Linked DNA regions of Homo sapiens: all the other regions are reported to be linked to region 2. The links are microRNA targets in miRTarBase. Many come from high-throughput screens and were not tested one by one. Region 2 holds a microRNA gene; each other region holds the end of a gene's coding sequence.

Region 1 (4,058 bases), not on the chromosome of region 2:
GCTCAGTCCAACCCTGATGTAAGTCACCTCAAGCTTATTCAGAGTCTAATAAAGGAAAATGGGCCATTGTCACCTCATCAAGTCCTTCACTATAATTACTGTTAGGTCTTCTCCTACTTCTTTAGCCTTGACTTCCTGCCTTATTTTCTTTCATCCAGCATCTAATCTTCCTCTTGCCACCGCCCTTTCCTGCCAAACCGTGGGTAACAGCAAGGACTTAAAGGAGCCCTTCCCATTTACTTCTCTTACTTCTTACCCTCCTGCTTCCCCAGGATGTCCTGACACTGTCCAGCAGCACAGAAAGTGAGGGGGAAAGTGGGACCAGCCGAAAGCCCACTGCTGGTCAGACTTCGGCTACAGCGGTTGACAGTGATGATATCCAGACCATATCCTCTGGCTCTGAAGGGGATGACTTTGAGGACAAGAAGAACATGACTGGTAGCCTGGAAAAATTTTGGGAATGGTGGGAAGAAATAGTAAGAAACTTGGGATAGAGCATTTTTTAAGGAAGCTAAAGAAGTAGTGGGTAAAAATTCAGATCCTAAGAATTGGAGCATCTCTGGGAGGGCTTTCTGACTCCAAGCTAAACTATTGTTTGACACATCCTCTCTCATTTCCATTTTTTTACTCTTTCCCCTCAGCTCCTTTGTCTAGCAGATCTAATTATGCTTGAAAAAAAAACCTGCTACTTAGGATCTTTGAGTTCCAGCTTATTGGTGTTTCTCAGCTGCAATGTTGGGAGAGAAATAGGGGTAGAATGTCCATTCATGATAGAATGTCTGTTCATGAGTTGGGATGGGTCCTGACCCCATTCTCCCTCCTGTCCAGGTCCAATGAAGCGTCAAGTGGCAGTAAAATCAACCCGAGGCTTTGCTCTTAAATCAACCCATGGGATTGCAATTAAATCAACCAACATGGCCTCTGTGGACAAGGGGGAGAGCGCACCTGTTCGTAAGAACACACGCCAATTCTATGATGGCGAGGAGTCTTGCTACATCATTGATGCCAAGCTTGAAGGCAACCTGGGCCGCTACCTCAACGTGAGACCCCTCTCCCCACCTCTAGATGCTGGATTATCCCATGGTCCTCAGATTTCTTTTAACATACTCTATAAGCCCTTTTCTTGTTATAAACTCTTGATCTCAAAGGATCTTAAAGAGGTAGCTTTCTTTCAAAGCATCTATTATAATGGGGAGGGTCAGATGGCATCATTTTTCTTCCAACTCTCACTCTCCCTGCAAAGCCAGGTTCAGTTTCCCTGGTTCTTATTTGATCCTGTCCTTAAACCTACAGCACAGTTGCAGCCCCAACCTGTTTGTCCAGAATGTCTTCGTGGATACCCATGATCTTCGCTTCCCCTGGGTGGCCTTCTTTGCCAGCAAGTAAGGAGTCAGGAAAGGGGATGACTGGGGAGGGGCAAGGACCACTGAAGTTCTAAGGGCCCCTCCTCCATTCATGATCCAACTCCACCTACATATTCAGTAACCCCAAGTGCCTGGGTTATCTGCTGTCTTTGCCACACACCATCCTTTTCTTCCTCTTCAGAAGAATCCGGGCTGGGACAGAACTTACTTGGGACTACAACTACGAGGTGGGCAGTGTGGAAGGCAAGGAGCTACTCTGTTGCTGTGGGGCCATTGAATGCAGAGGACGTCTTCTTTAGAGGACAGCCTTCTTCCCAACCCTTCTTGAACTGTCGTTTCCTCAGGAACTGGGTCTTCCTGATTGTTGAACCCTGACCCGAAGTCTCTGGGCTAGCTACTCCCCCCAGCTCCTAGTTGATAGAAATGGGGGTTCTGGACCAGATGATCCCTTCCAATGTGGTGCTAGCAGGCAGGATCCCTTCTCCACCTCCAAAGGCCCTAAAGGGTGGGGAGAGATCACCACTCTAACCTCGGCCTGACATCCCTCCCATCCCATATTTGTCCAAGTGTTCCTGCTTCTAACAGACTTTGTTCTTAGAATGGAGCCTGTGTATCTACTATCTCCAGTTTGTATTATTTCTTGAAAGTCTTTTAACAATATGATAAAACTAAGATTGTGGTTTTGTTTCTCTCTCTCAGCCCGATACTCCCAATTCTGGATCTTTCAGTGAGGTATTATCCCCATCCTCCCCTGTGGGCTGCTGTCATTCATCTTCTACCTTGTCTACCTTTGCTTCTTGCATGTGAATTTTTTTAGATGGAGTTCTCGCTCTGTCACCCAGGCTGGAGTGCAATGGTGCAATCTCGACTCACTGCAGCCTCCGCCTCCCGGGTTCAGGTGATTCTCCTGCCTCAGCCTCCTAAGTAGCTGAGATTACAGTCGCCCGCCACCACACCCAGCTAGATGTATTTTTAGTAGAGATGGGGTTTCGCCATGTTGGCCAGGCTGGTCTCAAACTCCTGACCTCTAGTGATCCACCCTCCTTGGCCCCTCAAAGTGCTCAAATTACATGCATGTGAAATTTAAAAAAGAAAATATTACATAACTGCAAGGAAGGCATAAGAAAGACTCTCTTCGTTTATTTAGTTGATCCCCCTTCTCAATTCCTAATAGTCTGACACTTATTGCCATGTTTTATTTAATATTTTTTATTTAATCTTTTAATTTTTAAAAAAAACCCATTAACAGTACATTTTGGTCTAAAATGGTCCCTCTGCTGAAATGCTAGGTGCTAGCCGTAATTCTGGCTTTAAAACCAAAACCCCAAATATTTAATAAATAAAAATTAGAATTAGTTGCCATTCTACTCCAAACCAGCTAGCCTAGCTGAAGAGAAGAGGGAAGGGGGAAGAGGCCAGAGAAAGGAGGAGGCAGTCAGATCTTAGACCTGTCGCTACAGGGACAGCTGAAAGAAGTAGCACTAAGAAAGATCATCCGAGCAGTCCCCAGTACAGCCCCCACTTTTTGGCAGAGGTAGGGTAAGGGTTATGTGCACCCTCCTCCTACCCTCAATTCATTTGTGTCATAGAGGGAGAAAGTTAAAAGCTCAGCTTTGGTTTCTGGCCCAAGTTAGGGAGCTTAGAAAGGTTAGCCTTGGTCCAGCTTTGGCAGAATGAGGCCCACAGATGGGACAATAAGGCACAACCCTGGCTCTGGAGGTCAGGGAGTCAAAGGCAAACAGCTGGGGCCAAATTCTCAGAATAAGGAATGTGAATTGTAACCCCTACCCACAGAGAGCTGAGGGAGGGCCTCAAAAGCAGTAGAAAGGATGACTTGGCGGGTAGGGAGGAAAATACGACCGTCCCCCTCTAACAGAATATAACCAACGTCCCCCTACCTGGGGATAGGCTGGTTAGAATTTGGTTTAAAGGCAACTGGGTGACAAGCAAGGAGGGAGGATGCAGAGAACTCTCCTCTCACTTTCTCCTTTTTCCCCAGAGCTTAAAGTGACCCTATAGCGCAGGGAGCGGGGTAGTTCCTTGGCTTTATGCATTAATCTGGGAGGCAGCTGGAGTAATGGTTCAGTCATTCTTACGATGGTTGTTATTGAGGATGGGGTGGCCATTGGCTAGGGGCCGGCTCTTTGCTCCTCCCCCAGCTGCAGCCTCCTCCCCCTCTGAGCTCTCTGTTTCTTCCCGGTCACTGCGTTCATCTTCTACCAGCTGTGGAAAAGGGACAAGAAGGGTTATTACATGAGATCCTCAAACCCCTAAGTACTGCTTCTCTCTGAGGGCTTGTTCCTGTTATACCCAGGGCTCCACACTAGTTTTTTAGAGAGTTACTGGCAAGATGGGAGTTCAGGAAGTTGTAGAGAGTAGTAAGGCCTACACAATGGGAACAGGGCTTCACCTTTCCAGTTATGAACTTGTGGGCCATGCGCAAAATGAGGTAGGCCCAGAAGATATGCAGCAGCTGTAGAACTCCCATCATGGAATTGAAGAAGTAATAGCCAAAGAAGGCAGGATAGAGCTCCAGTGGGTACACCAGGGTGCAATGCAGGATCCTGAGGATTCAAGGAGAGAGAGAACGTGGACAAGAGCAGGTCAGACACCGGGGAGATACAGGAGGGGAAGAAAGGCAAGGCTCCTGATTTCTTCAGAACAGGAGTGTAGCCTAGCTGCCTACTCACCAGA
Region 2 (4,067 bases):
CTAAAATGTCACATCTATCACTTAGATCAGCTGTTCATTTTTAACTGAGTACATATTAAACTCTGGGCATCTGCTGACACTGGTATAACTCAAACATTTCAACTGTCTCCCTGACAGGGATAACAGATGCTGACATTATCAAATGCTGTACTATTTTTTTCCCATGGCCTCTCCTTGCCCCGATATGGCCAGTATATGAAACTGAACTGCCATCCAAAAACACACTTGAGCAACTGGATCTGCTAAACAGCTCCCATATAACTAGTAAAAATAGAAGCCAGTATTATTGCTATCTTCAGCACTTAAGTTTAGGCAGTTTAACACCTGTTTCACTTCTACTAGAAAAAATGATGAAAAAGAATTGTAGTTAATTTCACCAGCAGTATGATACTTACCAACCAACAGACGCAGAATATACTTAGTGTAAGAGTCATTTGCATACTGCCTGAATTAGCGTTGACCTCTCAGTTTAAAATAGTAACTGTAAAGAATATTTCTCTACTCTATATTTCTCTGAGAGCACTTAACTTTATAGGCAAATTATAATTTATCAAACTTTTATTTTATGCAAGAAGACACCCCTCTCAAGACATTGAAATCAACAGTAAAACCACATTATAACAAAAATTTACTCTGATTTTTCAAGTATTATCCACACAATAGATTTTAATACTTGTATCCATGGATTGTAACTAACCACCATGTATTACTAAGGCGATAATGAGAAGTAACTTGGCAATCTGTACCCAAAATGACAAAGAACTTAGTCAAGGAAATAGACCTTTAAAAGGGTTAAATTACTAAGCTATGATTAGTAACACCACGTAAGCAAAAACAAAGAAAAACTGGCATGCATGGTAGTTCCTTTCGACACAAGTCCAAGCAATACACTGAATACACATGTGATCTATTTATAAATCAAAGGGCAGAGGTACTTTCTTAAGGCCACTGATATTCCTACACCCATCAACAATTTGCTATTAGCCCTCAACTATAATGCTAAAAGAAGCAGTGGCAGTAGAAGGGGGTGACTAACTGAACTCTTCCCCAACCTTTTAGCTTAACTATTTATCTGGTTTGCTGCCTAGAGATAAATGGAAAACATTACTCTAAAATACATCAAGGTCTATTTGTTCCTTTAAATACTATTGGTTTTGAAATAGCTTATTGTCTACATGTAAGAATTAAGCAAAGACTTCGGCTGTGGACAAGATTAGAAAAAGAAAAAGAAGCAAAGATGTTGAAAACAAAGACGTACATTGATCATTCCTTAATGCAGTAATGTGTTAAAAGGAAAAGATTTTTAAACCATTAAGCGCAGGAAAACAGTAGGAAAGTGACTTCAAAATGGAAAATTTGACATTCAGTGACTGAAGCATTGGTATGATAATTTCTAACACTTGTAGAAGGTCCATGACTGTAATTTTACCAATGAAAAGCATTTAACTGTTTTGGATTCCAAACTAGCAGCACTACAATGCTTTGCTAGAGCTGGTAAAATGGAACCAAATCGCCTCTTCAATGGATTTGGTCCCCTTCAACCAGCTGTAGCTATGCATTGATTACTACGGGACAACCAACGTTTTCATTTGTGAATATCAATTACTTGCCAACTAATTTCAACTTATTTACATTATGCAGACTGTGATTATAATCAAATAACTTGTTACTGTTAATTCTACCTGGAAAAGCTAGAATGGTTAAAGATGTTTATAAAAAGCTTTATGAAAAATGTATGGATGACTTAAGGATTTCAAATAAAAATTTTACTTATTATGGTCTCTTGGTATTAAATTTCTTATCCTTCAGAAAAGAAAAGAACTGGTAATAAAATGTAGGCTATGCTTCATAATAACAACAACAACAAAAACTTCCTTCAAAGGAAGAAAATATCTGGAAAGGTCACCTAAAACCCACCTGAACACATAATGGGATTGTACAGTGTGGTTTACATGGATGTGTGCATATTTAAATTAAAGAAAACTGTAACATTATATAACACTCTAGAAATGTTTAGTCACTATCTTCCATAGTATTGGCCTTTAATTTTACCGCTATTTACCTGAATGTTAGCAGGTAAGGTGAAAAAGATGATAACTGTAGAATATCTTGTGGAGAGGCTTAAAACAGTTATCTAGTTCTTCTGACCCTGAATCAAAGGTTTTTAGTCTTCAAAAAAGAAAGAAAATGCTAAGCATCACTACTTTTACTCATGAAATATTTCACCTCTCCATATTTGTTTTCACAGCTGTAAAATGAAGAACTCTGCTAACAATAAATACTATGACTCTCCTCACTGTCTTCTTTGTCCCTTATAAAAAATATACACACAATATTCTCCTTCAGTGGGGATAAACTGAAGTAAAGAAAAAAAGTGACAATTACTCTAACATCCGTATAATTTTCTTAATGATTGCAATAAAACTATAGATAATTTAATATTATTTAATAGAGACAAACATTTCAGCAATTAATGAAGATTACTGAAGACAAGAGTAGTTTAAAGACCCAGATGTTCACACATTCTCAACTCCTGACCACTCCTCCATTTCAAAATGAACATCATTCTCTAAAAGACTGTGGGCAAAAGGAGACATATATAAATATATATCTTATCACTTCATTCAAGATCTTCTTCCTCCTATTAATTACACCTCAGTCACAGAAAGTACATTTGTGTATTACAAGGAATATGGTGTTTGAGAGTAGATGCATGAGCATACATTAGAGAAAACACACTCTAAGTATCCTATTACCGAATAGACTCAGCTATATTTTGTAGATAGCACTCAGCATGTTTACAGTTGTAAGGAAAGCATTAAACACCAAAATACAGTACAGCTTATCAAATCTTCAAATAGCCAACATAGTCTTGTTTACAGACCATATTTCAGAATTTAAAAAGTAAAAAAAGCATCACAACATTCGAGAAGGAAAACTATGAGTTGCTCACATATTCAGTAAGATTTGTAATATGTGTCTTTGTGGGAATTAGTAAGCAAATAAGAAACGCCTGTGAAATTATCTTAGTACCAACCTAAAAACAACATATATCACATCAGGTGATTCACTCATATTTTACGTTTACTTTTCACATTCAATTTCTATTCAAGAAAAATTCGTAAATACTATATAAACTTTATAATTATATTATTGTTACCTGTACTTCCAAAATACCTATCGATTGTTTTTGCCAGCTCTGCAGAGAATACTGCTGACTAATTTATTTTCATGCCTGTAAGGGAGCTCTAAAAACAGCTAAAAATGCAGCATCTTTACAGAAAGTACCTAAGTAACATGCTGATTATGCTACTCCAAAGAAATTCAGTTTTCACTTTTATCAGCAGAAATAATTTCTACTCTTACTTTAAATCCAAAATTTTACCTATATACTAAGAGATGATAAATATGGCTAAACTCTAGATGAAAACATGCCTATAAATATTAACTATCAGAACAGACAAACAGCATTGTTCTTAGTTAAGATTTCTCAAAAAAAACAAAACTGTATTAAAACATGGTGTAATTTCTACTTAAAATGCTCCAAACTTTATAAAGCACAACCAAAGTACTCAGGGTCTCATAGTGAAAATTTATATTCCCTTCCACAATTCTAAAAGACAACAATAAATGGCTTTGTAACTCTTTTCTCTTAATGTGTTTCAGTTACTATCATACTATGAGAAAACATCAAGATCAGCTTTGAAATCTAGACTCATATTGATCTGCACCTTTGAAATAGAGACTTCAAAGGACAGTCTTCAAAAATATAGGACATCTAGACACTTCATCAGGTTCTGGAAATAACAACGTGCTATATCTGGTTTTCTTTTCTTTTCTTTCTTTTTTTTTTTTTTTAGAGACAGGGTCTTGCTATGTTGCTCAGGCTGTAGTGCAGTGGCACGATCATACCTCACTGCAGTCTCAAACTCCTAGGCTCGAGCAATATTCTCGCCTCAGCCTCCCAAGTAGCTGAGACTAAAAGTCTGTGATGCCACACCCAGCTGATTCTTTTTTTTTTTTTTTTTGATACAGTCTTGATCTGTAACCCAGACTAGAGTGCAGTG
Region 3 (4,067 bases), not on the chromosome of region 2:
ACTAAAGGGAGTTTCAGAATGACTGCTGAACCATAGAACAGGCCTGGAGGGCAACAGTACAAATGGCAGAAGATGAAGGACTGTGGAAGAAATGTCCCTAAAGGATGACAAAATATTTTTAAAAACTTTTTTAAGAGAATTGATACGATTATCTGATGTTTTTCAGCATTTAAGCCTTTGGATAGTCATTGTGACAGGTACATTAAAAACTAAGCAAATTTGAAAATCAGGCAATACCAACCCCAGAAAAAATAACATTCTAGTAAAAAGGAAATAATGATAGTTAACCATGTGGTACATCAGTGAACTACATTTATGTCTATCTATTTCACAAAAAGTTTGTTCTAACTAAAAGTTGTGTGAATATAAATCTATTTTGGGAGGGGTGGGGGAAGAAAAATGTGGGAGGTGGAGAGTTTAAGTAAAGTAAATCCTGTCTACCATAAAAGGTATTCGAGAAACTGTTTCTGAAATTGATAAGTCAACAAAAAGTAGTATAACATTTTCAAACAGGAAGGTAAATACTAACACAAACCACTAAGAGTTCCAAGTGTTTGTCTTTGGAATGCTAAACTGGGGAAGAGGGAACTACACTTTTTCACTATAAACCTTTTAGTTCTATTTGATTTTTTCAAACTATGTACATTAACTAGTTTAATAAAAAGAAAGCTAAAATTAAAAAAAAAACAACAGAATTTCAAGTTAAGAATTCAACATGAATTCAAAGAGTGGATTGGGGAGACAGAAAGACATGAACAAGAAGGCCTACCTACCAGCTACCTACCATTCATTTACCCGCCAGGGTTATTAAAAGACAGACCTCCTCAAAGGAACTCCTGCAGCCTAATCTGGCTTTCTTTCAGGCCAGGACACTCCCTCTGTACCAAGTACCCAGATCAAGGCTCAAAGTACAGACCTAGAGGTGCCTTATTAAATAAAAGAACTAGCAGAGTCCAAATTAGTGGTATTATCATGTATATGGAATTAGTGTAAACAGCAATCTGGTATTAACATATCACAAGGGCGCATTTCCTGAGATCTTGTGATTTTTACATTTCTAAATGTGATAATACATACTGAAAAACTACAATTCAAGGTCAAAGGTTCTAGGGCATCTGTGGAAATGAAGATACTCTATCTTCTGCCTTGGAATTTAAGTTTAAGCAATAGCATCCATTTCTGGATTTTTCCTGACTGAAGATCATGCAATAATCCCATATGATGTAAGAAAATTCAAATTCAGCTCATTTATAAAAGAATTGTATCAAAATCCCTTTAGTCATGGAGGCCTGCGATTCCCAAAGAATAGTGAGCAAGCACTTGAAATGAAAAACAAGCACTGCTTTTGCTTAGAAGATCACTGATAGGCTGCCAAGAGAACCTCCAAATTTCTCAATAACTTTTCATGTTTCTCAATAACCCCATGACCTAGACAAAGCAAAAAAAAGGGACTACTAATAACTAATAATAACCAATAATTTTTCTATAAAGTATAGAACAACTTGACAAGCTAAAATTCTTACAGAATTGTTATATGGTTCATCTTTTTCTTAAAATTCAAAAAAGTCAGGCACACTTGAAAATAAAGGACTCCTCAAAATGCAAGGTTCCCTTAAGCTTTATAGGTTTCTTCATGCTACTAATTCACTGATCAAAACCTGGATATAATTCAAGATATATTTATACTCCCACAAAAAAAATGATTTCACAGATGTGTTTGGTTCCTAACAATAACAACAAAAAGTGGCTCCAAGTCATAACAAAAGACATACTTAGGGATACCGCAAACCTGTTCAAGGACCTGTTTTAAGGGGGAAAAAATGATACAAACCAGAAATAATTGCATTGTATTTTTAAAATATTCACAGAAAACTCTTCACGAACCCATCTATTTGGGTAAAGCAATAGAAAATGGATGTGATTATTTTCTATAAGTTCAAAAGCTTGTTACGGTGTTTTCCTTATAAACCTATTACTGCAAAAAAACTCACTACCAGAAAAAACTCCCAATCAATAGCACCCTGACCTTCATGGTCTTAATACTGTGCAAGTTCTTACTACAAAATTTAAAAAAAAAAAAAAAACAAGAAAAACCTGATTACCTGCTCAACGTCATAACTTACTACATTATCAAACTTTTTTTTTCAAATTAGACATATGAAGTACAACTTATGAGCAGGCAAAGACTCCACTGAATATAGAGTAGTCTGATGACCTGTGTGTTATTTAAAATTACAAACACTTCAAGTAGCATACAGTTTACCCAAACACATATTAATGTATAGACTGTTTATGTCCATCTTAAACTTAAGATGGAAGGCCTATAATTACAGTTTTTTAAACAAATACCAAATATTAATTATTTTAAAATATCCCACATAAACTTACAAGATAAATTGAAATAAAATGAAATAGGTCACACCATTCTAAGCTCACAGGCAACAAAAATTATGCTTCATTTGTGTCTTCACCAGCAGGCCTAAATATACAAACAAACTCAAATCCATTAGAATTATATTAGTGCCTAATAAAGATTAGACAGAATATCAATGAATGTAAAAAATACAATGTATTATATGATGTGTTTGAATGCAAAAACCACGCATTTATTAAACATATGATTAACTTAAAAACAACACACCAGTTTGTTTTAAAGTGCTCCTTATCCAAAACCTTAAACAAAACTATCAGCCCAAAATGAATTCAAAAAAACAGATTACAAGGCAAACAATGACAATAGGTATGGACAGGCACTACCAAAAAATGCTATTTGTTCTTTAATTAAATAATGCCATTCTCAAGTGATATAGAGCAGTCATCTTGACAGAATTCCTTTTTGTATAAATATTCATAAATAAAAATGTCTCTAGATATTGGAAAGAGCTGCAAACAATACTTTACAACAGCAGCTTAATATCTATTTTAGGAAAAAAAAAGCACTAAAATTCTCTTCCATTGAAAGTTGTTTATTTCTCTAGTGTAAGTGAGCAAAGTCACTACAGCATTAAAATCTCTTTTCTAGAACAACGTAAAGAACAACGTATACACATCTTAAATTTGGTAGGTCACAAAAGTTAGAATGCAATCATCTTTTGAGGCAACAAGAAAATAAATACATAAAAATTAAACACTTTAACCCAAAATTTGGTATTGACAAATCAGTAGTGTCAACTTCACATATGAAGGACAATACAGTCTGGTTATTTAAAGATGCTCAATATGTCATGGTATTTGGGCTAAAGATACTTAGAATATTGTGTTTCCTTTTTGATTAAAGGAATACAATACAATCACCATCAAGCTGCTATCGTAACTCATTTTTAGCTGTGGTAAAGTGACCATTTGGTCCATGGCACAAGTTACATATATCACACTTCTGTCAAACTGAAACCTTATAAGATTTCATGTTTATAAGCTACAATACACCCTGACCATGCTGTCAGTCCCCTCAGAGTTTTTAAGAAAAATATCTACATTTGTCCTTATGGATGTCAAAATGTTACACCATCATTTGTTCAAAAAAAAAAGATGCACATTCATACTGTGAAGTTATTAGGAAAATACTCTTGCAAACAAACTATATAAAGATAAAATACACTTCAAAAGTATGTGGTTTGTTTTCTTGTTTGTCTGTTTTACAACATTCTATAAAGTGCAGAGTCCTAAGGGAAAAAACTACTCCCTATAACAATAGTTTAATTACAGCAGCTTTTGCATAGCAATACTTAGAGGAAGTTGGACACTTCAGTTTCTTCAGGAAGAGAAGGATGGAAGAGTATCTTCTGATTCAGATTGTTTTTTGGCCATAAGTCTGCTTTCTTCAGGAATGGTTGCTGATGCCAAATCTCCATTAAGTGTATTTTTTGAACAGTGAACAGGTCCTATGAAGACATTGATAAAAACGTTAAACATCCTGTCAATATTAACTCCAGTCCTCTGTGAAAGAACATTTTAAATTTCCTGTTCAGGGACATGAAATTCCTTTAGCTTCTGGCTAATTTTGTATTTCCTTGTTTGTTTCATGCAGGAAAACTTAACTTTTAGACTAGAGTATCAACAGCCACAAG
Region 4 (4,067 bases), not on the chromosome of region 2:
GTCACTGACTAGGGAAGTTGAGGAGGTTGCGGGGAGACGCCCGGGGAAGGCAGCTGATGGAAGAGCCAGCCGGAAGTTCCGCCTACTTCCCCTACCTCTGTCAATCCGACCACGACTTCTCCTTGAAAACCACGACTCCTGACACAGTAGTTCCGCCTCCTCAGAGGCCCCCGGGATGAAGTGACCCAGCAGAAATACCAGAGACCGGAGACGGAATGGCCCAGGGTCAGCCTCCACCCGGAACCGGAGGATGCAGCGAAGACGTCTCCTTGAAGTGGGATACGGATGTGAACCGGCCCAAGTGCTCGCCGGTCCGTCAAGACGCGCTGCCCGGCTGCTCCCGTGTCCAACTCGGGCTGTGTCCGCCCAGGCGGGCCTGTGCGCGGAGGTCCTACCGCTGCACCTCCGCGCCTACCGCAGCCCGCACCCCCGCACCCGGGCAGCCAACGTGCAGGAGGCCCGGGCGCCTTCAGCGGAGACGCCCCGACCGCGGCTGCCTCGCCGCAGCGTTAGCTTTTACCTACGTGGGGAAGTAAGGGGAATTTGCGACCGCCAGCCCAGTCCGCTGAAAACCTGTGGCTGACCCACCCTCTTCCTTTTTCTGACCCACGTTGGCTCCAAAAAAAAAAATCCCTAGGGATCCACTGGGAGCCAGTTGAGCAGGAGTGGATTAAGACACGTGTCGCAGGGTGTATGGTGGAAAGAAACGTTTTCCTTTGCTAGAATGAACCTTGGGAAGGATCCCTTTTGATTCCGTAGATGTAAGAGGCTACACAATATTATGGAAGAAGGATGTAAAAAAAATGTATTATTATTTTTTAGTTACCAACTGGACTGAAGTAAAAGACCTTTTAAACTTATTTACTTATTCTTTTATTTTTTTAAAAGACGGAGCCTCGCTCTGTCGCCCGGGCTGGAGTGCAGTGGCGCGATCTCAGCTCACTGCAGCCTCCGCCTCCAGGGTTCAAGGGATTCTCGTGCCTCATCCCGAGTAGCTGGGATTACAGGCATGCGCCACCACGCCCGGCTAATTTTTGTATTTTTAGTAGAGTCGGGGTTTCACCATGATGGTCAGGCTGGTCTCGAACTCGTGACCTCAAGTGATCTGCCCGCCTCAGCCTCCCGAAGTGTTGGGATCACAGGCCACCGCGCCCAGTCAACTTTTTGTTGCTATTGTTGTTGCTTTGCTTTTTTTATTTTATTTTGCTTTTTTTGTCTACATCAAGGGTATCCAATCTTTTGGCTTCCCTGGGGCACATTGGTAGAAGAGGAATTGTCTTGGGCCACACATAAAGTACACTAACAGTAACAATAGCTGATGACTTAAAAAAAAAAATCGCAAAAAAAAAAAAAACCTCATGTGTTTTAGAAGTTTACAAATGTGTGTTGGGCCGCATGCAAAGCTGTTCTGGGCCGCGGCTTGGACAAGCTTGGTCTACATGCTTAACTTGAAAGTGGCTGAGAAGAAAGAGGATGGGTATAACTGCATCTGCTGAGGAGTTTCCAGGGGGAAAAAGGATTTAAACCTGAATTTCAAATATGTCTTTGAACATGGCGGTTAGACTAAGGTACCCCAAATAAGGACAGTTAGCTGGAGAAGACACCGCGGCCTCTAAGGGGAACATCACTACAAAAATAGAGTTGAGATAGTAACCAACATCAGAATCTCAGTCTTAAGGGAGGATGAATTTCATAAGACCCTGACACTGTGGACAAAGAAAATGGATGGGTGTTTAGGCTAATAAGCTATGTAAGACATAGGATGGCAAGAGCTGAGCAAAAACACTGTGTGAGAAAGATGAAGGCAACAATTCAAAATGTAGGAAAAAGCAGCCAGGCATGGTGTTTCATGCCTGTACTCCCAGCATATTGGGAGGCTAAAGCAGGAGGATCACTTGAGGCCAGGAGTTCAACACTAGCCTGGGCAACATAGCAAGGCCTCATCTCTATAAAAAATAAAATTACTGTTGGGAGGGCAACATGGGCGGATCACAAGGTCAGGAGTTCGAGACCAGCCTGGCCAACATGGTGAAACCCTGCCTCTACTAAAAATACAAAATTAGCCAGGCGTGGGGGCGCATGCCTGTAATCCCAGCTACTTGGGAGGCTGAGGCAGGAGAATCTCTTGAACCTGGGAGGCTGAGGTTTCAGTGAGCCAAGATGGCGCCACTGCACTCCAGCCTGGGTGACAAAGCAAGACTCTGTCTCAAAAACTAAATAAATAAAATAAAATTACTGGCCAGGTGTGGTGGCTCACACCTGTAATTCCAGCACTTTGGGAGGCCAAGGCAGGCAGATCACTTGAAGCCACAAGTTTGAGACCAGCCTGGCCAATGTGGCAAAACCCCATCTGTACAAAAAAAAATACAAAAATTAGGTGGGCATGGTGGTGCCTGCTTGTAATCCCAGCTACTCGGGAGGCAGGAGAATCTCTTGAACCCAGAAGGCAGAGGTTAGTGAGCCGAGATCGTACCACTGCACTCCAGCCTGGGCAACAGAGCAACACTCTGTCTCAATAAATAAAAAAATAAAAATAAACATTTTTTAAAAATAGCCATGTGTGTTGGCATGCCTGTAGTCCCAGCTACTCAGGAGGCTGAGGTGGCAGGATCACTTGAGCCTAAGAGTTCAAGGCTGCAGCAAGTTACAGTCCCGCTACTGTGCCCCAGCCTGGGCAACAGAACAAGGCCCATTCTCTGAAAATAAAAATAAATAAATTCAAAAGTTATTTTAAAGATGTAGGAAAAAGCTTTATGCACAAATAAAGCCATGTCTTTATTTTTTATAATAGTGAAAAATCAGAAATAAGCAGACCCTCAATAAGGAACTGGCAAAAATAACAATATGGTATAACCTATTGAAATAAATGCCGCTATTAAGTCATGCATCTTAAAATCATAATGCAAATAAAATGACATAAAAACTGTTCATAACATCATGAGAAATGAAAAATGAGGGTACAAAATTATATGTTTTTTAAACCTTGGAAATAAAAAACATTGGTAGAAAATATACCAAAATTTTTACCATTGGTTATGTTTGAACAATTGAAATGGCTTTTCCCCTACTTTTTTCTCTGTGTTCCAGTGTAACAAGAATATAGTAGGGCCGGGCGCAGTAGTTCACACCTGTAATCCCAACACTTTGGGAGGCTGAAATGGATGGATCATGAGGTCAGGAGTTTGAGACCAGTCTGGCCAATATGGTGAAACCCCGTCTCTAGTAAAAATACAAAAATTAGCCAAGCGTGGTGGCACTTGCCTGTAGTCCCAGCTACTTGGGAGGCTGAGGCAGAAGAATCACTTGAACCCAAGAGGCGGAGGTTGCAGTGGGCCGAGATTGTGCCACTGCACTCCAGCCTGGGCGACAGAGAGAGACTCTGTCTCAAAAAAAAAAAGAAAGAAAGAGAGAAAGAGAGAGAGAGGGAGAGAGAGAGAGAGACAGAGAGAGAGAGAGGAAGGAAGGAAAGAAAGAAGGAAGGAAAGAAAGAAACAGAACATAGTGTAACAAAATCAAAACATTAAAAATATAAGGCCTAAAACACAACAGATTCAGTTGTCAAACTACTAACATCTTTATTTTGTCAAGATATTTAACAATATTAAAAAGTTCAGATTTCTTCATGGTCATGTCTTTTACCAGCTTTTCAAAGATTCATTCAGTAGTAGAAACAGCCAAATGCTGCTACAACGCAGAATAAACTGTCCTAAAAAATAAATACAACACACACACACATCCAGAATGTTAGTACTAAAGAGGGAATGAGAGCAGCACAGGCAACTGAAACTAACACCATCTCAGATCTTTCCAATTTTTTTTTTCTTTTTTGAGACAGGGTGTCACTCTATCACCCAGGCTGGAGTGCAGTGGTGTGATCTCAGCTCACTGCAGCCTCGACCTCCTACACTCAGGCAATCCTTCTACCTCAGCCTCCAGAGTAGCTAGGACCACAGGTGCCTGCCACCATACCAGGCTAATTTTGTTTATTTTTTGTAAAGATGAGGTCTCACTATGTTGCCCAGGCTGTTCTTGAACTCCTGGGATCAAGCAATCCACCCATGTTGGTC
Region 5 (4,060 bases), not on the chromosome of region 2:
CATTCTGTCGCCCAGGCTGGAGTGTAGTGGCCCGATCTCGGCTCACTGCAAGCTCCACCTCCTGGGTTCATGCCATTCTCCTGCCTCAGCCTCCCAAGTAGCTGGGACTACAGGCGCCCGCCACCACGCCTGGCTAATTTTTTGTATTTTTAGTAGAGACGGGGTTTCACCGTGTTAGCCAGGATGGTCTCGATCTCCTGACCTCGTGATCCGCCTGCCTCGGCCTCCCAAAGTGCTGGGATTACAGGTGTGAGCCACTGCGCCCGGCCGGGTTACTTCTTAATATACAAACGGGCACCTCCTCTGATGAGCACCTGGGAATGGCCGGAGGAAGACCAGGCCCCAAGCCAGCCCCCCAGATGTGAATCTGCCCCTATTCCCTAGCCAGGCTTGTTGAAAAGTCCCCAGATGTACATGGGATGGGATCTCTTCCTGGGAGAGCAGACCCCAACATCCACCCAGTGAAGCTGAAAGTCACGTCAAATCTGAAAGGCGACTTTGTTCTCCCTGGCTTCATCCCTTATGCATGAAAGAGCAGACGGCTGGCGCTCAGGATTCATAATCCGAGACATCCGGAGACTAAAGACATTGGCCAAATTTAAACCGAAAGATAAACTTGTTGGGTGTCTTTTCAGATTATGAGGGAAAGAAGAAAGGGGAGGATTTCTTAGTCATCCATGAACCACTGAGAATTCACAGGGAGTCAGCCTGATGCTGATATGAGGGCTCTGCCTCTGGGTTCTGGACGCTTAAAATACCAGTTTCAAAGGGATAAAGAGATACATGTCCAAGTGGACCCCCACAAGCCACAGCTGAGGGGCAGAGGCCTGGGGAATCTCCGGAGAGTGGCTGAAAGAACCTGAAGAGAGTGGCCTTTCTGTGAGGGTCACCGCACAGGTCAACAGGTGGTCTCGGGCAGCATATGGCCAGACTGGGCTCCTGGGAAGCCAGGACATGGCGGGGTAAGGGCCACACAGGTTGGCGGCTCAGCTGTGGCCCCGCCCAGCACTTGAAGCACAGCTGCCTTCCTCTCCCAGCCCAGTGTCCTCAGCAGTAACGGGAGCTAATGCCATCTGCCATCTGCGCTCAGCACAACCGTTGCAATATGGTGCAGAGCTCAGCACAACACCCGGCACATAGTAAGAGCTCAGTTAACACTGGTTGCTAACTATTTTACTTTACCATTTTTAGACATATTGAGTTCCAGTTGCCTTTGGTTCTGAGATAACCTGAATGCACAAGTGTTCTACCAACAATGTGATGATGGTCACCACTGAGTCACACAAAACCCAGGGTGGTAAAAAGCGGGGAGGTCATTGCACCATTTTCACAGACGGGAAAATCAAGGCTCAAGAGGTGACTGATCAAGTGTCACAGCCTCCAAGTGGCAGAGCTAGGGCTAGACCCTGAGTCTCTCAAGACACTGAAATACTTCCCACCATCCCCCAACACACCCAAACCACACATCCTGAGTTCATCTGGGCCACGCCTGGACCCCTGTCCCCAGTACTGAGACCCAGGCCCAGTCCACGTTCAGCCCGGAGCAAGTCTGTGGAATGATAAAGTGTTGCGGATCCAAAAAGTGATGGAAATAATGGACATCCTCTCTGTGGAAAACGCCCACGTGGACACGTACACAACCTCATGCACACTGCAGGGGACTCACAGCCTGGCCACAGTCCCCCGCCGGGGCTCTCAGACGCTTCAGCCGATGCACCAGATCCCTGGTGTAGCCTCCATGAGTCATCCAGAGGTGACCTCATCACACACACACCCAGCTGCTGGGTGAAAAGGGGGCCCCACTGGGCCTTCAACCCCAGGAACCTAAGACCATCACCCCCACTCAGTGCTGCCCCTGGGCACGCGGCCCCACCCAGCCTGTGGTCACTGCTGCTGCCATCCCCAAAGGGCAGGAGCCGCCGGACGCTGCCGCCAGTCTACTCCACCTGATGAGCGTTGCTTGAGTTTCAAAACGAGAACATTTATTATTTGTTTTTTCCTCATTAAAGTTTCACAAATAAAGCACAGCAAGACTTGTCTGCAGACACACAGGAGGCACACGGACAGCCCGTCAACCAGAGATGGAGACGAAGGCCAGCGTGGCTCTCACAGGGCAGCGCTTCTCAGAACCCCTGGCCCCCCTCGTGCCAAGGCTGGCCTGTGTCAGGCCTCGCCCACGCCGCCTTATGACAAATAGAGGCCGGTGCCAAGGAGGTGGCTACAGAGCAGGGGCAAGGAAGTTATCCTCATGTTCTGATAATGACCCTGCAAATCCCACCCCACCCTCAGGCACCTCCGTCTAAGGTGTCCGGTTACTCCAGGTAAGGAGGTTCCCAGGAGGGCCGTGTTTTCCCTAGGGCTGATGAAACTTGCTCCGACAAGCCAGGCCACTGGGAGGCACCTCAGGATGGAAAAGATGCTGGAGGCTTTGCTGGCTTTCAGGATGCCGGGAGCCCCACGGGGGCAAAAGGGGAGGAAGGAAAGCGATTCTAAAGACAGATTGCTGCTGGTCTGTCCCGACCCAGGGTCACAGTGTCAGCAAAGAGAACAGCATGATTCTGACAGGGTTGGATTTTGTTTCACCCTCGGAATGAGCAGACTTCAAACACTTGCATTTTCACGGAAATCAACAAGAGAGACAGCTAGCAGGACACGAGGCTCCTGCCAGTTCTGTGTGGAAAGGCACCAGATGGTTTGTTATGAAACACATTTTGGTCAGAAAATAGCTGGGGTTTTTTGGTTCCTGGGAGGACAACAAAGCTAGAAGAAAAGGAGGTGTGAGTTGCGTGAGGAGGAGGCAGAGAAGAAAGCAGCTTTGGCATCAGACCTGGGTTCTACTCTTCACTCTACCCCTCCACGCTTGAGGCCTGTTTCCTCATCTGTAAAGTGGTCATAGAATATTTCCAAATAAATCTAGGTGTCAGGTTTCACACATCATCCCAGGAAGTATGGGGAGGCGGGGCGCAGACACTCAAACGGACACACAGAAACCAGAGGAAGAGCACAGCCTTGCGTGGAGGGGAGAAGGCAGGCAGGGGCCCGACGGAGGGCGGTCACAGAGATGATCCCCGTGTCAGTCCCTGGGAGCAGGGAGCAGCCAGTTACACTGGTTCCAAGCACAGGTGGAGACCATCCACGGGGACCTTGGGCCCCTTCTCCTGGAGGAAGGGCAGAAGGAAAGCTGGACTCAATGCAGCACCATGGAGGAGCCCTCAGGGTCACACCTGCTGTTAATGCTTTAAAGTGCCAAGCTGTATCGTCTTTGGTCAGGAGCTGCCCCTTAGTCTCTAAGAGCCTGGGGTCCAGGGCTCAAACCCCCGCCTGCTGGGCCCTGAGGAAGCAGAGCAGGAGGACACATTCCCCTTCTGCGGCTGTGGGTGCTCTCCTGTGCTGGGGGGTGGGGGGAAAAATCACTGAAATCCAACAGCTTTCAGGAAGCAGGATGCCCCCAGGGAAATTTGGGTCCTTAGAAAGAGAGAAGGGACTAGAAATGCTTTGGTCACAGTCCTGATACCCACAGCCAGGGCAGAGCTTGCTCCAGGAGAGCAAGCGGGAGCCGATTACAGCACTGCACATGTCACGCAGCAGGAGACGTGCCTGACGCAGACTGGCTTCTGAGCATAAGCCAGAAGTCACTGAATAAATATTCAAGGCATCTTTTGGTTCTCAGAGAAAGAGCAGGGCTTAAAAGAAAAATCTCTCCCCTGCCTGACTGGCTGCAGCTCTGATCTTCAGGCTGACAATGCTGAGGGCTGGGAGAGGTGGCAGGCGGGCCCCAGAACTGGCTCCCCCGCAGCAGGTGGCTTTGGTCCATCACGTGTCAGGGCCGCTTGTGTCCGGCTGGCCCCGGGCCCTCAGAAGCTGAAGAGGTCATCCTGCTCTGTGCCGCTGCTGTCAGGCTTGTCCCAGTCGACAGGCGAGAGGCACTGGGCGTAATGCATGTCCTGGGCTGTCAGGCCAGTGTCCAGGACCTGAGGGTTTGTCCGAGACTGGGCAAGCCTGGAAGGCAGAGCTGTGTGAGCCGAGAGCCTGGGTGAGGGCTGGCGCGCCCCAGGGTCAG
Region 6 (4,067 bases), not on the chromosome of region 2:
TAATAATTAAAACTCTGTGCTTCTTACTCTGGAGCTGCTTACTTGGAGCTGCCCCATGAGAGGCAGGTGTGGGATGGGGGCTGTGATGTGGAACATTGGCCCTGTGGCTTGATTTGGGACCCACATGCGAAACCCTGATTTTCTGTCTATGTTACATTTTGTCTGCACTGTATTTTCTCATCTGGGACCAGAGGCCCTGAAGTTGCAGTAAAAGAGGTACTTTTGTGATTTATTTTTTTATACGTCCAAAATACTTCAAAAGAAACCTTAGGCTGTCTTTAGGTCAGGCAAGATTTTCTGTGTGTCACATGACTAGAGACTCAGCTGTGGTGTGACAGCCACACATCCAGCAGGGCTGGGCACAGGCTTCCCTTTGACTCTGAGCCACCCCGTCATATGTATTTGAAACAAGACTTTAGATCAAATGGGGCTGCTGAGAGGGGGAAGAGATCAAGGAATGAAGGCACAGGGTTGTAATGATCAGCTGGCAGAGCAGGAAGGGGCTGCATGTGGCTTGGGTCACCACAGAAGCCTTGAGGGGCCAGGCCACGTGCCCGAGGACTAACTGTGCTGGTGTGTTTTTAGATATTTGGCTTCTTGGCGACTGCGGCATATGCAGTGAACACATTCCTGGCAGTGCAGAAATGGAGAGTCAGCGTCCGCCAGCAGAGCACCAATGACTACATCCGAGCCCGCACGGAGTCCAGGGATGTGGACAGTCGCCCTGAGATCCAGCGCCTGGACACGTGAGGACCTGCCTGGATCCTCCTCCCTCCCGTCCTCGTGCCTGTCTCTCAGTCAAGTTTTCTTTCCCTTGTCCTGTCAGATTTCCATGTGATTCAGTTGAATTTTGTCCTCTTTGGTAAAAGTTCATTTTGGGAAAGGGTTTCCCGAGTGGCCCAGTGGGCGGGTCCGCGGTGGAGTTGGGAGGCCCACGTTCCTCAGCGTTTGGGGCTGTGGAGCAGCCGGCGTCACTGCCCAGGTCCACTTGAGGTCTTACCTGCCCTGAAGCACAGGCTTCCTTTGACTCTGAGCCACCTTGTCGTGTGTATTTGTAACAAGACTTTGGATTAAATGGGGCTGCTAAGAGGGGGGAAATATGAAGGAATGAAGGGACAGCATTGGAACGGTCAGTCGGCAGTGGTTCTCAGGCAGCCTTAGGCACCACCTGCTCCAAGTCAGTGTTGAGTCTGCGTGCTGGGATCCAGCCCACTCCTCATCTTCCATGCCAGGGCCCCCAGGCAGCCAGCACCAGCCCAAAGGCCACAGGGCTGGGGAAAGCTGATGTCCTGTTAGGATGGCTCCCAGGGACCTCTGACTCAAGGAAGGGTGACCTTTTGTTTCCTACTCTGCTGAGAAATCACTTGATTCTTCCTCAAATGAATCACCTTCCTGAACCCCAGATTCTTCTCCAGGAATATGGGGGCCATCTTGTTATGGGGACTATCTTGTTTTCCAGTTTCCTGCCTACCCTAAATACTTTGAGGCTGAATTGCAGATTTTCAGTCATTTTACCTTCTCAGGTAAAAGCCATGAAAGAAACAAGCCTACTCCACCAGCCAAAGCACTTGCCCATTTGCTGGCTTCATGAACCGCAGGTGGGAGGTGTTTGTGTTAAAAAACAGCATGCACACGCGTGCGCGCACACATGCACACACACACCCCTCTATTTTAGGGATGTGTGCTAATTTTCTAAATGCCTGCAAAGAGTTCTAAAATGATTCTGAGCAGATTCGTCTAGGATTTGAAAATACTTGAATTTGCACCAGAACACACCCTTCCACCCATGTTTCAGAAGGCACTAATTGTCGCTTTGGGCGCCTCAGTGTCATAACTGTAGACATCATTCTTGGGAGTTGTTGGGGGGAAAAATCCTAGCTACTTAAGGTTTCTGATTGATTCTTGATAAAGTGAAGATTATTGTGTGTGGTGAATGAGTTCAGTGAGTCCCCATGATGCAGTAGTTTTTTTAAAAAATTAGAGAGTAATTATATCTTTTATGGAAAAAAGTTGTTTTAGTTTGTCAGGTTTTCCCTCTTTGAACTGTTTTTAATGTTTACAAACCTCACTTTAGCTCTAACATTTTGTGTTTAGCCCTCACCAAAAAGCACTTACTGTGGCAGGAAGATTTTGCAGTAACATGGAGAAATCCCCAAGATCAAGTGCTGACAAATGTTGACAGCTTTAGCAGCGTACTGTGTAATAAATAACTCCGAGGGGGCGGCGGGGGGTCTGTGCAAGAAAGCGTCACCTTATGGACATGTGGCGTCTCATTCCCCAGAAAAGGACAGCATCTGAGCTCACAGTGTTGATCAGGCAACACTGCTGGGCTGGGGGTCGGAGTTGGGGTTAGCTTCCTGCACCAACACCTTCAGTACGATCTGAGTTGGGAGCAGTGTCCCAGGCTATGTGGCTGAGCACCACGTCTGCCTCAGGGGCTGACCCTGCTAGCCTGTTAACAACTCGTCTCCCCTCTGCTCCCACAGAGAGGGCAGCCAGGCCAGCTCACAGCTGGGTGTGCTGCCTGTCAGGTCTGTTGAGTGTGTTTGCAAAGTCAAAATTGGGCTTATCTCTCTTTGAGAGTTCCTTTTAAAATAGGGCCACAAAGGCTCAGCCTTGCATTAAATGGGGCCCACTTGGAAGGACCATCCTGAGCTTTATCAGAAATCTCCTGCTGGGAATCATGTTACTTGGCCCCCAAAAAAGGCCATCTTTGAAGTGAGATTGAAAACAAGAACACCATTCAGGTGGGCTTGTTGCCCAAGTTTTCCCAGCTCACTTCAGTAAAACCACTTGATCATCTGGTGAAAGAGGGGGGCAGGTGGTTGGCCTCCTGAGGATATGTTGTCAGCTGCAAGAAATAGTTCTGAAGTCACTGAAACTAAATGCAGATGAATGACCAAAAAGGATGACACGCCAGAGAGTGACTTAGGAGTTAATTTGCATCTTCGTGATAGACTCTTCAGAATTATTTATGTCCCTGTAACTATTTAATATCCTTTGTGCCGTGAGGCTCCTCGGTGGTTTTGTAAATGTTCTCCTTGTATTTAATTAACTCCCACTAGAACCGGAAGTGGTGCTATGGACGCTTTCTAGTTGATGTAATGTGTGGTTGCACATGTCATCATGTATAGACCACGTGGTGACGAAAGTTCTGGAGGGAATAGGGTTATCCAAGGTGAATATGAAGACGCCTATATTTTTCTTATATTGCCTCTATATGCAAACAGAAGACAATCGATATCTGGGGGCCTTAAAATGACCTCTTGGCAAATTGAAGGAAGCGTTTTTGCGTTTAATAGTTTCAATAGGGACCAATATCAGTTTGGTTTGGGGCATTTGAAGGCTGAGCGACCTTAGTTTTTCTCAGTGTTCTGGTGGGACGATATTGGTTTTCACATTTAAAGCAAAACTTGAAGAAACTGCAGTTGCTGTGTGCATTTGGGTTTTTTCCTGGACACTGTACAGCTGAAACCCTCAAGCATTTGGTGGAACCTCTGGTGGTTTTAGATGGATGCAAACACTGATGTCCTCAGAGAAAGTTTATTTTGGCACTGATTGGGTGGATTTGGTATTTTTTCCCTCTGATTCTCTTTGATATCCTTCTTTCACACTGCTGAAGGCATGGGAGGGAAATATGTTTTCCCTGCCTTAAAGAGGGATTACAGTCATGAAAGGCTGGAGATACTTGTTGGCCCCACATAAAGCTGGGAAGAACAGATGCAGTTTCAGATTAAAATCTCGTCAGAGAAGTTTGATTTGAAGTAAACAGCCATCCGAGGGAGGTGACTTTTGTCTACAGAAAAAGCAAGAATGTGGCAGCCTGCACAGCCCCAATACACATCTTCCTTGGCAATGTGAGCTGAAGCCAGCATGGGCAAGTCCGGCCCAGCTCTGAGCGCTTGGCCCTGGGAAGCCAGCGGCACCCCCAGCCCTTCGGGCCCTGTTACTGTCCCCTGGCAGGAAGGCTCACGCCTGTGGGCAGCCAGGGAATGTGTCTGACCTCCACCCTATGTCGGGTGCTTCTGGGACAGCTTCGTGACTCAGTTGAAAACATTCTGACTCTC
Region 7 (4,065 bases), not on the chromosome of region 2:
GAGATTTTAAATGTTCTCCCCACAAAAAGAGATGAGCATGTGAAGTAATGAATATGTTAATCAGCTTGATTTAGCCATTCCACAATTTCAAAAAAAAACATGTTGCACACCATTTTTATTTGTGAATTTAAAAATAAATAAATAAAAAGAAAAGAAAACATAGAAACTGAAGGTCATCACTTAGTCATACACAGGTATCAATTACTGTGTGGCAATTCACATTGCACTTTACATACCTTGTCAAAAATAAGGGCTTTCTTTTTTTAAAAAATTTTAATTAATTAATTTATTTTATTTTATTTGTTTTTTGGTGAGACGAGTCTCACTCTGTCGCCCAGGCTGGAGTGCAGTGGCGCCATCTCGGCTCACTGCAAGCTCCGCCTCCCGGGTTCACGCAATTCTCCTGCCTCAGCCTCCCGAGTAGCTGGGACTACAGGCGCCCGCCACTACGCCCGGCTAACTGTTTGTATTTTTAGTAGACACGGGGTTTCACCGTGTTAGCCAGGATGGTCTCGATCTCCTGATCTCATGATCCACCCACCTCGGCCTACCAAAGTGCTGGGATTACAGGCATGAGCCACCGCACCCGTCCTGGCTTTCTTTACTATCTTTCTAATAGATAGTGGTTTTACATCAGTTGGAATTTCTCTTCCTATTTCTGCTCTGGGTGTGTGTGCGTGTGTTTGTATGTGTGTGTGTTCAATTCCAGTAAAAACTCTGGTTCTCTAGATCAGATAGGCATACGGGCCTGTCAGGTAGTGTAAATGAGTTAAGTGGGCCAGTGTGAGTGTAAAACAACTAGACTCACAGGGACTGTAGTCAACTAAAGAACATAAGCCCTGCCTAAAGATATTCCAAAAGATATTTTAAATCAGTGTGAAAGTCCAGGCAAGTCTACTGACTAAATACAGCAACAAATGATCAATTTTGATCTCTTGTTGGATAGCACACTCAACGTTAAAGAGTAGACACCGGTCGTGATAGGGAACACTTTCCTCCCAGTGGGTAACAGGTCTGATAGTGGCTTGCTTTGGAAATGCCAGAAATTCCTGACATATCTTTCAAGAAAGATAATGTGATAAATGATATGCCATTAGCTTTTTAAATAATAAAGCAGCCTGGGATTATATATCCAACCATTCCATTTTATTTCCTTTAATAAACAAAAACACAAAAGAAAAATGTAAGCAAAACAAAACACTTTCGTGGTCTAAAATCTCCTAGAAATGATGGCGAAATTATACAACAATGTGAAAAGTAGATTTGAAGGGTTTCTTTCTTGTCCTAAGTGTAGTGTTGCACATTGATTTATGAAGTCTCAACACGGCACAGATTTAATTAGAGCTCAATATTTTCTGGGAAATTGCCTCACAGTGGGACCTACACATTGAGAACAAAGCAGGTAATGGCTTTCAGAGACATGGCCAGGCTGCGATAACATCTACACTTTCTGTGATGGCAGCCAGCAAAGAATTAGCTATCAGTCACAAAGAAGGTGTGCTAAATTTGCAACAGAAACCCTGCATGCCAAATCTGACCCTCAGATATATTTTTCTCTTGTCCACAAAACATTTCAAAAAACTTTGGGCCAATAGGAAAAATTGGAAGAGTTTACTTTAAGAACCTTTCTTAACCACTAGAAACAGCTGGCAACACTGGGCCCTTACTCTGCCAGAGTAAAAATCTGCCAGAGCCAAAGAGTGGCTGACTGTAGCCTTCAGATTGGGTGTGCTGTGTCCTCTCTGTTTCCAGGACTGATCACTGCCTGTTGTCTCCCAGACACCATGCCTGAGTCACAGTTGCCAATCGTCACCCCTCCTGTTGTTTTTAGACCTCACTCATTTCCCTCATTTAAAAGACCTACTTGTTTTGGGAAGCTATGTGAATTTCTGTCTGAAGTTTGAGTAAAGATATTCCAACAATTAAACTTTGCACCAATTAACTTTGACATAATTCCTTTAACATATACTGTAGGACTGTATCAACTCAGTTGCAGCAGAATTCTATTGAGGTTACATAATTAGTGAACATATAAAATTTATAAGGTGCTACTGAAGATCACATTTCCCAGAAGACTGTGCACCAAAGGCAGGGCTTTCTCAAACTGAGAAGGAAGCTAAATAATTTAACTGGCCTTGACAGAAAAAAAAAAATTGCCAAATCGTCTGCTCGGGCTTAAATATTATATTTACTTTGAGCGGGCCGCACACAAATGCAAAAAGGGGCCGGGTGCAGTGGCTCACGCCTGTAATCCTAACACTTTGGGAGGCCGAGGCAGACGGATTGCCTGAGCTCAGGAGTTCGAGACCAGCCTGGGCAACACGCTGAAACCCTGTCTCTACTAAAATACAAAAAAATTAGCCAGGCTTGGGGGTGGGTGCCTGTAGTCCCAGCTACTTGCGGGGCTGAGGCAGGAGGATTGCTTGAACCTGGGAGGCAGAGGTTGCAGTGAGCTGAGATTGTGCCACTGCACTCCAGCCTGGGCAACAGAGCGAGACTCGGTCTCCAAAAATAAAAAAAGAAAAATGCAAAAAGGTACTTCATATACAAGATGTTCACCACAGTGCCTGACACTTTATTGTTGCTATTCACAAAACTATTCTTATGAATAAAAGACAGTCTAACAACTAACTGTCTTTGTAACTCAAGAATATTGAGGAAGAAATTATTTTAAAAGCGAATCACATTTTAACACTTTCATATCTAAAGTAACAGCTGTGGAACTAATAATAACATCTCTAAGGTTTGGAATGGTACCCTCAGCATTTTCTCTTGCCCCAACCCACCACCCCCATAACAGGATGCGTTATAACACTTGGATTTTGTTCTTTACTTCTTCTTATTTTTAGTAGATATTAAGACATCTCCATTGTAAATACACATCCCTCCTTTCTAACTGCCCATATCTCCGCCATCGGTTCAAGACAGTGGTTCTCAATTTTAGTGGACAGAAATATCAACAGACTGGCTTATCAAAAATTCAAATTTTCAAGGCATCACTCCCAGAGTTAATAATTTGGTAGACTGAAAACAAGCCCTAGAAGCTGAATTTTTAAAAAGAGAACCATAGATGCACATGTTCACAGATTTTAAGGAACATGATATTTGCTTTATAATATGTACTTGCTTTGTTTTAATTACTGGGTATAAACATATTTTTACATGAAATAAAACAAGAAATCAGTCTAAAACATTTATATTTCTTACATGATGTGGAAAAAGAAATGAGGATTAAACATCCCCATGAACGTATTTATTATTGTTATTATTATTATTATTTTGAGATGGAGTCTTGCACTGTCACCCTGGCTGTAGTATAGTGGCCTGATCTCGCTCACTGCAACCTTTGCTTCCCAGGTTCAAGCAACTCTCCTGCCTCAGCCTCCCAAGTAGCTGGGATTACAGGTGCCTGCCACCACACCCAGCTAATTTTTTATATTTTTAGTAGAGACAGGATTTCACTATGTTGGCCGGGCTGGTCTCAAACTCCTGACCTTGTGATTTGCCCGCCTTGGCCTCGCAAAGTGCTGGAACTACAGGCATGAGCCACTGTGCCCGGCCATTTTTAAAATTATTTTTAAAGATTGAAAATTTCAGTTCCAGTAAATATAATTTTTGTTGATTAACAAATTAAGAACTATTTGAAAAGGTAAATATTTAAAGTTTACCTGTTAAGATTTTGTCTCAAAGGATTGATGATAGAGATTAAAAAAACTCTAGGAGGGCATTTAAATAAGAAAATTTCATCCATAATGGTATTCTGCAAACCATTTACTTTAGAAGTTAAGTTTCTGGTCTATAAAATAAAATTACCTCTCATGTTTAAAATGACAGAAGTCTTTAAGGTGTTTCGGGCCTATGAATGTGTCTCATCATGTTTTTCTTCAGCATTTACTAAGTCTTCTGAGTTCTTATGAAGATCAGATTCACCTAAAAATATAAGGAAACAAAAGCAAAACAAAACAAAATAAGGCTTTGGAAAAAACTAATAAGGTTAGGAGACTGAAGAACTTTATAAAATGTTGAAGACTGAATTTTACAATGGATTTTGTGGCACATTTTTTC

Evidence for each region. The annotated mature microRNA hsa-miR-133a-3p reads UUUGGUCCCCUUCAACCAGCUG and lies in region 2 at 1,527-1,548, shown strand. An mRNA with a match to its seed (bases 2 to 7 or 8) in the 3' UTR can be bound and repressed. Matches are read on the target gene's strand: a 7mer-m8 pairs with bases 2 to 8, a 7mer-A1 pairs with bases 2 to 7 and ends in A, and an 8mer does both.
Region 1: the mRNA of CERS2 is a reported target of hsa-miR-133a-3p. Seed matches in the 3' UTR shown: 7mer-m8 at 3,019-3,025 and 7mer-A1 at 2,619-2,625.
Region 3: miRTarBase lists PLEKHA3 as a target of hsa-miR-133a-3p. Seed matches in the 3' UTR shown: 8mer at 3,342-3,349.
Region 4: the mRNA of DYNLT2B is a reported target of hsa-miR-133a-3p. The part of its 3' UTR that is shown has no 7-base or 8-base seed match.
Region 5: the mRNA of LDLRAP1 is a reported target of hsa-miR-133a-3p. Seed matches in the 3' UTR shown: 8mer at 3,805-3,812, 7mer-A1 at 3,495-3,501, 7mer-A1 at 3,262-3,268 and 7mer-A1 at 2,711-2,717.
Region 6: the mRNA of CMTM4 is a reported target of hsa-miR-133a-3p. Seed matches in the 3' UTR shown: 7mer-A1 at 2,898-2,904 and 7mer-m8 at 3,312-3,318.
Region 7: the mRNA of PDE1A is a reported target of hsa-miR-133a-3p. The part of its 3' UTR that is shown has no 7-base or 8-base seed match.

The regions. Positions count from the first base shown.
Region 1 is chr1:150,962,702-150,966,759 of GRCh38, forward strand. CERS2 (ceramide synthase 2) reads right to left here. Exons shown (of 11, transcript NM_022075.5): 9 at 4,055-4,058; 10 at 3,775-3,928; 11 at 2,485-3,587. The coding sequence ends at 3,447. It overlaps SETDB1 (SET domain bifurcated histone lysine methyltransferase 1), which reads left to right. Exons shown (of 22, transcript NM_001366418.1): 18 at 1-18; 19 at 273-438; 20 at 829-1,040; 21 at 1,294-1,382; 22 at 1,546-2,036. The coding sequence ends at 1,663. Among named protein-coding and RNA genes, the nearest start is that of CERS2, 10 kb to the right of the region's middle. RefSeq lists enhancers at 2,080-2,224, 2,717-2,861 and cis regulatory regions at 2,152, 2,788.
Region 2 is chr18:21,823,193-21,827,259 of GRCh38, reverse strand. MIR133A1 (microRNA 133a-1) reads left to right here and starts at 1,475; the gene lies at 1,475-1,562. The region is part of intron 12 of MIB1 (MIB E3 ubiquitin protein ligase 1); the gene reads right to left. MIR133A1HG (MIR133A1 host gene) reads left to right here. Exons shown (of 3, transcript NR_110369.1): 3 at 1-1,781.
Region 3 is chr2:178,503,574-178,507,640 of GRCh38, reverse strand. PLEKHA3 (pleckstrin homology domain containing A3) reads right to left here. Exons shown (of 8, transcript NM_019091.4): 8 at 1-3,881. The coding sequence ends at 3,754. Among named protein-coding and RNA genes, the nearest start is that of TTN-AS1, 18 kb to the left of the region's middle.
Region 4 is chr3:196,287,669-196,291,735 of GRCh38, forward strand. DYNLT2B (dynein light chain Tctex-type 2B) reads right to left here. Exons shown (of 5, transcript NM_152773.5): 5 at 3,551-3,706. The coding sequence ends at 3,659. It overlaps PCYT1A (phosphate cytidylyltransferase 1A, choline), which reads right to left and starts at 58. Exons shown (of 9, transcript NM_001312673.2): 1 at 1-58. RefSeq lists an enhancer at 1-201 and a silencer at 375-484.
Region 5 is chr1:25,566,787-25,570,846 of GRCh38, reverse strand. LDLRAP1 (low density lipoprotein receptor adaptor protein 1) reads right to left here. Exons shown (of 9, transcript NM_015627.3): 9 at 1,961-3,999. The coding sequence ends at 3,855. Among named protein-coding and RNA genes, the nearest start is that of LDLRAP1, 25 kb to the right of the region's middle. RefSeq lists enhancers at 1,884-2,607, 2,608-3,332, 3,333-4,056.
Region 6 is chr16:66,618,741-66,622,807 of GRCh38, reverse strand. CMTM4 (CKLF like MARVEL transmembrane domain containing 4) reads left to right here. Exons shown (of 4, transcript NM_181521.3): 4 at 586-4,067. The coding sequence ends at 750. Among named protein-coding and RNA genes, the nearest start is that of CMTM3, 16 kb to the right of the region's middle. RefSeq lists an enhancer at 2,425-2,926.
Region 7 is chr2:182,143,223-182,147,287 of GRCh38, forward strand. It overlaps PDE1A (phosphodiesterase 1A), which reads right to left. Exons shown (of 15, transcript NM_001363871.4): 14 at 3,814-3,930. The coding sequence ends at 3,857. Among named protein-coding and RNA genes, the nearest start is that of PPP1R1C, 160 kb to the left of the region's middle.